Homo sapiens: one gene and its partner. The protein of the gene in region 1 interacts with the protein of each later gene in a pairwise test. Each region holds a gene or a part of one and is shown on either strand. Other genes may lie near its edges.

Region 1 (3,787 bases):
TTAAAATTCTCTTCTCACAGATATATGTATATTTTACTAGCCTAACTACGTAATTTTTTAATATAAGAAAGATTTCATTTATCATGAGATCTGAAATTAGAGCTTATAATTATTTAAAGTAGTCAATAATGCTAGCGTTAATGATTTTAAATACAGGTTATAGGTTTCTAAATGACATAATTTACATTTTAATATACAGGTGCTTTTAAGAAGAATTAGGCATTAAGGCTGCCCTTAAGAATGTCTTTCATACTTAATTGTCTAGGGAATAAAAAACATAGGATAGAAAATTGGTTGGATTTCCTGTTTTTTGCTCTTCACTTAAAGATAACATTATTCTCTTTATCTCTGCAAAATAATTACAGATACAAGACCTATAACACAGTTTCTTCTTTTCACAGCTTCGGTGTTTACTTGCCTGGCAATAGCATTGGGATTTTATAGATTCTGGAAGTAGTATTAATGCTCATCCTGCTGTGGCTGTTGGCTTCTTAGAACACCAAACCGGGAGAGATTTACTTTGAACATTGTCAGTTGCAGCAAAAATTTACTACACAAGATTATTCGAAGTGTATACGGACTAAAAGAGGAAGTGTTTTAGAATGAGAAGAGATACTGTGTCTTTATTGTGTGTGTGTGAGTGCAGGTGTGTGTCTTTATTATATTGAAAAGCTGTCACTCAGACCTGGTTTGAGATAGAAGAGCATTTTGTCCTTTTGATAGTTAATAGAAATTGAACCAGAGTTTTCTTATGTTTGCTTGAACAGTTGTGTAAATCATACAGGATTTTGTGGGTATTGGTTGAATATTTGTAAACCATTCCCTAGCCTACATATTTATTACTGAATTAACTTTCCTGATAACCATTGCATAATTACATTTTTCTATAAAATGAAAGATTATTACAACAAAGTTGTGTGGGTTTTCAAAGTGACTTACCATATAGTTGGAGATTGATTTCTTTTTGGTAATGAACTAAAACAATAAATTTTAAAATGATAGGCCAGGCGCGGTGGCTCACACCTGTAATCTCAGCACTTTGGGAGGCTGAGGCGGGTGGATCACTTGAGGTCAGGAGTTCTAGACCAGCCTGGCCAACATGGTGAAACCCCGTCTCTGCTAAAAATACAAAAATTAGCCAGGCATGGTGGCACATGCCTGTAATTCCAGCTACTCGGGAGGCTGAGGCAGGAGAATCTTGCAGTGAGCCGAGATAGCACCACTGCACTCCAGCCTGGGTGACAGAGCAAGACTCCATTACCTAAATAAATAAATGTGTGCTTTAGTGCAAATTACAACACTTAATATGAAATCTGTAGAGTTGCTAAATATTGAGCTCTGATTATTACATGTATTTTTTAAATATTTGATACTCAAAAACCAGTTTATCCCTGCTTCTTAATGTAGTTTAAGTTAACCCATCTTAAATTTATTACATAAAACAAAGCTTTTCTTAATGACTTCAATTCAGCAAACATTGATATCTAGTACCTACTCTCAAGAAACTCATAGGAAAATTTAAATTCGTATTTTGTTTTGTTATTAGATATATTTTTTCTTACAAAGTAATATCTATTAGTAAATCATATGTAATTTCAAAGAAATTTTAAAATATCCTTTTCATCTTAGTTCTTCAGTCTTACCCAGATCAAGAAGACAAGACCAGAAAGTAAACATTTTGAGTTCATAATGCCTTGGTAATAGCTATAAAAGTTTGACAATCATTATTCAAAATAGCCTTGTCATTTGTTTAGCTATAAACAGGGAATCTGCAGTATAGAGCAGTCAAGAGATTGGTCCATATGGTCCAGTGAGTGAGAGTCAGGCTTTCCAACTATATTTTCCTCAAAAATCTAACTGCTGGTTTGTTTTCAAAAGAAAAACCTTGACATTATCCTGTTACATTCTGATTCATTTTTATCTCTATTGCCTAAGAGAGTTCTTAGTATATTATAGATTAATTTTCACTGAGTCAATTAATAAGTTACCATATATATTAAAGTCCACTGTAACAAAGTATACTGCATTTGTTCAGTTAACCAATATGACTGCCTGCTATATGCCAAACAGCATGCTAGTCCCTGTGTGCACAGAGATGAACATGGTTTCATTCTCATTGAATTGACAATCTTAAGGAGAGAGACATAAACAAGTAAATTATTGGTTTGTTAAGATTTAAAATATTCTAAAATATTAAGAGGGAATGCGTCTTTCCTCCATGTGAAGGAAGCTCCAGTAGCATAACACTGTCGTCACTCTTCATCCCCTTATCCACTCTGCCCTAGGTAAAGTGACTTGCCCAATTGTAAATCTGGAAGGAGAAACAAGGTGCAATTAGCCCACTTCCTCCCCACTCCTGTTTGGGACCAGCCCATCTGAAGAGACATTCATTCTGTTCTGCTTCTATGGGATCAGGCTCTGCCTCTGCAGGATGAGGCCTGGCCCAGTAGAGCAATGCTTGAGACAGGGTAAATCTGTCCAGTTCTAGAGTTCAGTGATAAGAAGCTTACTGGCCTTAAGATGAAACCCATATTCTCTTGCTGAGCACAGTGGCACACATCTATAGTCCTAGCTGCTTGGGAGGCTGCGGCAGCAGGATTGCTTGAGCCAAGGAGTTCATCAAGGCTAAAGTGTACCATGATCATACCTATAAATAGTCACTGCACTCCAGCCTGGCAACACATGAGACCCTGTCTCCTAAAAAAAAACTTCTCCAATAGTTTTATCAGCAAATAAAGGTGTTTTTTAGGCCTCTATATTAGTTTATTCATTCTTCATCTTAGTTATATTCACAACCCAGAATGGAAAGGAGGTATGCCATTTATTGGACCTTCTCAAGCCCCAACAAATAAATATACTTATTCCCAGGTTATACAGCCACTAAATATTAAATAGATCTGCGTTCTTTCTCATTGTAGGGGTTTAGCAAACAAAGTGCTTTGTATCCAATAACAGAAGAATAGAAATATGCATACCATACCCTGTCCCCATTACTTTTAGATCCTATATCCTTTCCATGAAACTTCATTTTGATGGTGGTTCTGGGGTTCAGGTAAATTTTTGTTTCAGTGATGGAAATATATGAAATAAGGATGAGAGGATTGTGTTTCTATATGCCTTAAAACTATACCTCTATTCCAGCACTTGCACTTCACTATGAAACAGCAATTATACGTATCTTTTTCCTACACTAAACTACAAGTTCTCAGAAGGCCTCTAGACACATGTGAGGTACTTGTTAAACGCCTGTGGAATAAATGATACTCATAAATCTCAGTTGACCTTAATCCAAACTTTTTAATATTTTAAATATTTAATTATGGGTATGCTGAAAATACTGCATTCATACTGAGTGAGCGTAATACACCTTTTAGGCATTTTCTATGAGTGGTAAGAAGCCTCCACAAGGATTAGCTACTTTCACCATGTTTATAGCCACAGTGTAGATCCTAACCTGCCTATCCATACTGCTTTGGTGACAAAATAGGCCAGGCAAGAGTATGTAAGGACTTGGCAAGAGTCAGGAAAAACCCTCACCTATTGGAAAAACAATTAAAAGCTTATAATGTTGTCAAACTTGAAGAATTTGGATATGTAACACTTGTTTATTTTTTAAGTATTTTTTAATATTTAAAAAAAGGGCAGTGGGAAAGGCTGTAGTCATTATCACTGAAACTACTGATTGCTATTTTGAAAAAAAATAGCTATCATTGACTATATGAGGGCAAATATGCTAAATAACATATATGTGCTCACCTATTTTCACAGCTCTCCTCTTAGGTAGATG
Region 2 (3,500 bases), about 22 Mb from region 1:
TCATGATCATGCTTGAGCAGGGAGGGAAGAGACTATGGCAAATGAGTGCTACAAATTTTTCTGCTGGATTCGATGCAGCTGGTTTTGTGCTCACCTGGGGAGCAGGAGCCTCTTACTGGTTTCTGGATTTCTCACAGGGAATTGGTTTGTTTGTTGCTGTTGGCTCAGTGTCTCCATCGGGGAAGGAGGATCTGGGGTTTCCTACTCCACCATCTTCACCTCTTGCTGAGGTCACCACCTTGACATCATATCTTGATAAGTTGTCAACTTCTCTGGATTGGGAGCCTTTGGGGGATTAGGGATCATGCTGTCTCTGTGTGCTCAGGATTTGACACAGGTGAGTGAGTAGAGTATAAACCACACTGTAAGAATTTTAAGGGAGTGCAAAGGAAGGAAAAATTATTTCTGCTGGGATAGTTTCTGGAAAGGCACTGGTTAGGGACACATTTGCAGTTAGGACTGTGTTTTAATTCTAATTGCAGTTACTATTTGGATGATTTTGGGTGAGTTATTGAACCTTCCTGAGCCTCTGTTTCCTTGGCTATAAAGTGGGGACAATATCAGCATAATTTCTTTTCTTTTTTCAGGGGGATAGGGTCCGTTGCCCAGGCTGGAATGCAGTGGTACGATCACAGCTCACTGCAGCGTTGACCTTCCCAGGCTCAGATGATCTTCCCACTTCAGCCTCCTGAGTAGCTGGGACCACAGGCACCATGGTGGGACTACCCCACTATGCCTGGCTAATTTTTGTATTTTTGGTAGAGACAGGGTCTCGCTATGTTGCTCAGGCTGGTCTCGAACTCCTGAACTCAAGTAATCATGCTCGCGTTGACCTCCCAAAGTGCTGGGATTACAGGTGTGCGCCACCACGCCTGGCCAGCAGTGTAATTTCCTCATGACTAAATGTGATTGAATGCATTCAGCACCTAGTAAGCATTGAGTAAATGATAGCGATGATAGTCGTCATTATTGTAAAGATGTTTGTGGTTTGTTCATTTCAGATGCTTGCTCTGTCAAGGCACAGCCTATTGTCTCCTTTGCTCAGTGTGACATCATTCAGACGCTTCTACAGAGGTGACAGCCCAACAGATTCCCAAAAGGACATGATTGAAATCCCTTTGCCTCCATGGCAGGAGAGAACTGATGAATCCATAGAAACCAAAAGAGCCCGCCTGCTCTATGAGAGCAGAAAGAGGGGAATGTTGGAAAACTGCATTCTTCTTAGGTATGGGACTAGGAGTCTTTTTTTTTAAATCGGGCAGCTTCCTGAGCCAGAGTAGGTTCAGAGAGACTCCCAGGAGTAGGAGTCTTGGTGTCACTTCTCTTTTATTAGACACAGCCTTCTCAACCTCTTTTTCTTTTTTTCTTTCTTGTTTTTAGTCTTTTTGCTAAAGAACATCTGCAGCACATGACAGAAAAGCAGCTGAACCTCTATGACCGCCTGATTAACGAGCCTAGTAATGACTGGGATATTTACTACTGGGCCACAGGTACTGGGTATGATAAGCAGCATAATGTGAAAATAGGACAGTTTAGGCTGATTTGAGTCTAGAATTGTATCCTAGATAATTTTTTTCTTTCTTTTTTTTTTTTGAGACTGAGTTTCACTCTCGTTGCCCAGGCTGGAGTGCAATGGCATGATCTCGGCTCACTGCAACCTCTACCTTCCAGGTTCAAGCGATTCTCCAGCCTCAGCCTCCTGAGTACCTGGGATTACAGGCATGTGTCACCACACCCGGGTAATTTTATATTTTTAATAGAGACAGGGTTTCTCTGTGTTGGTCAGGCTAGTCTCGAACTCCTGACCTCAGGTGATCCGCCCGCCTCGGCCTCCCAAAATCCTGGGATTACAGGCATGAGCCACTGTGCCTGGCTTATAATTTTTTTCTTTTATTCATGAAGTAGACACTCAACCCAAACACTGTTCAAATTTTTGTTAAGTGTACAAAATTTATCAGTTAAAGTTCTTTATTTGCGAGACAGAGTGGAAACTTGTTTGTCTCACTTAAGCAAAAAGGAATTTAGTGGAAGGGTATATGAAGCTCACAGTATCAAAGGTTGAAGAAGAACCACTCTGGGAATGGAGTGGAATCAGACAACTAAGTCTGCATAGCCAAAGCTCCTCAATAGTTTCATTCTGGCCGGCCGCAGTGGCTCATGCCTCTAATCTGAGCACTTTGGGAGGCTGAGGCGGATGGATCGCTTGAGGTTAGGAGCTTGAGAGCAGCCTGGCCAACACAGCGAAACCTCATCTCTCCAAAAATTCAAAAATTAGCCGAACATGGTGGCGGACAACTGCAGTCTCAGCTACTTGGGAGGCTGAGGCAAGAGAATCGCTTGAGCCTGGGAGACAGAGATTGCAGTGAGCTGAGATTGCACCACTGCACTCCATCCTGGGCAAAAGAGTGAGACTATGTCTCAAAAAAAAAAAAGTTTCATTCAGGCACTACCTTTATGAGGAATGAATTCTAACTGTGTATAGTTAGGATTAACTTTGGCTATGAGTAAAAAAACATCCAAAACAGTAATGGCTTAAACAAGGTAGAACTGTCTTTCTCATGACAGAAGTCCAGAGGAAGGCACACTCCAGAGCTCATAGAGGGGCTTCAAAAAGTCATGGGTCCAGGTCCCCCCTACTTGCTGCTCTTTCATCCTAGCATGTGTTTTCTACTTCTTGATCCAGGACAGCCATATTTCAGCCCGGAAAAAGTGTGTGGAAGTGCATACCCCTCCTTTGTAGATCCCGCTCAGGAAATTATCCAGCATACTTCCACTTATTTGCCATTGGCCACAGCTTAGTTACTTGGCTACGTCTAACCATAAGGAAAAATAATATAGTCTATTCCATCTGCCCAGCTGTGTTGGAGATTCTGTTATCGATGAAAACTGGATATTAGGGGACGTGTCATTCATTCTGCCACACTCCGGGACTGCTGTTTTTGTGTCTCCACTCAATATTTGTATCAGAAAGTAGCAGCCATTGTCTATGGGTTCCAGGTATGAAGAGTGATAAGACAGAGTCTGGAGCCTTATACAATCACTGGAAAGCCAACAAAGTCCAAATATTTACTCTCCAACCCTTTACAGAACAAGTTTGCCCTGACTTAGCATAATGCATTTGAGATGCGTATCCTTGTTGTTACTTGTATCAATAGTTCATTCTTTTGTGTTGAGTAATATTCCATTGTGTGGATGTACCATGGTCTGTTCATCTTTTGACCAGCTGAGGGACATTAGGATTATTTCCAGCTTTAGGTGATTATAAATGAAGCCACTGTAAACATTTGCATACAGATTTTGTGAACATAGGTTTTAGTTTTTCTTGAGTGAATACTCAGGAGAAGGATTTGCTGGGTCATGTGGTAAGTGTATATGTTTAACTTTATAATAGGGCCAGGTGTGGTAGCTCATGCCTGTAATTTCAGCATGAGATCACATGCTCCTCCTCTGGGAAGCCGAGGCAGGTGGATCACTTGAGGCCAGGAGTTCGAGACCAGCCT

The links. Proteins that work in one complex are often made in the same cells at the same time.
Region 2: the proteins of CCDC90B (region 1) and SDHAF2 interact in a two-hybrid assay, tested with the Homo sapiens proteins (one large-scale study listed by BioGRID and IntAct).

The regions. Positions count from the first base shown.
Region 1 is NC_000011.10:83,258,581-83,262,367, reverse strand, and holds the end of CCDC90B (coiled-coil domain-containing protein 90B, mitochondrial isoform 1 precursor), read left to right. Parts: exon of another isoform or gene 1-401; coding exon 402-457; 3' UTR 458-2,259; coding exon of another isoform or gene 2,260-2,311; 3' UTR 2,312-3,287; downstream 3,288-3,787. Other genes in the region: ANKRD42 (ankyrin repeat domain-containing protein 42), read right to left, coding at 2,260-2,311.
Region 2 is NC_000011.10:61,436,624-61,440,123, forward strand, and holds part of SDHAF2 (succinate dehydrogenase assembly factor 2, mitochondrial), read left to right. Parts: intron 1-1,001; coding exon 1,002-1,225; intron 1,226-1,380; coding exon 1,381-1,490; intron 1,491-3,500.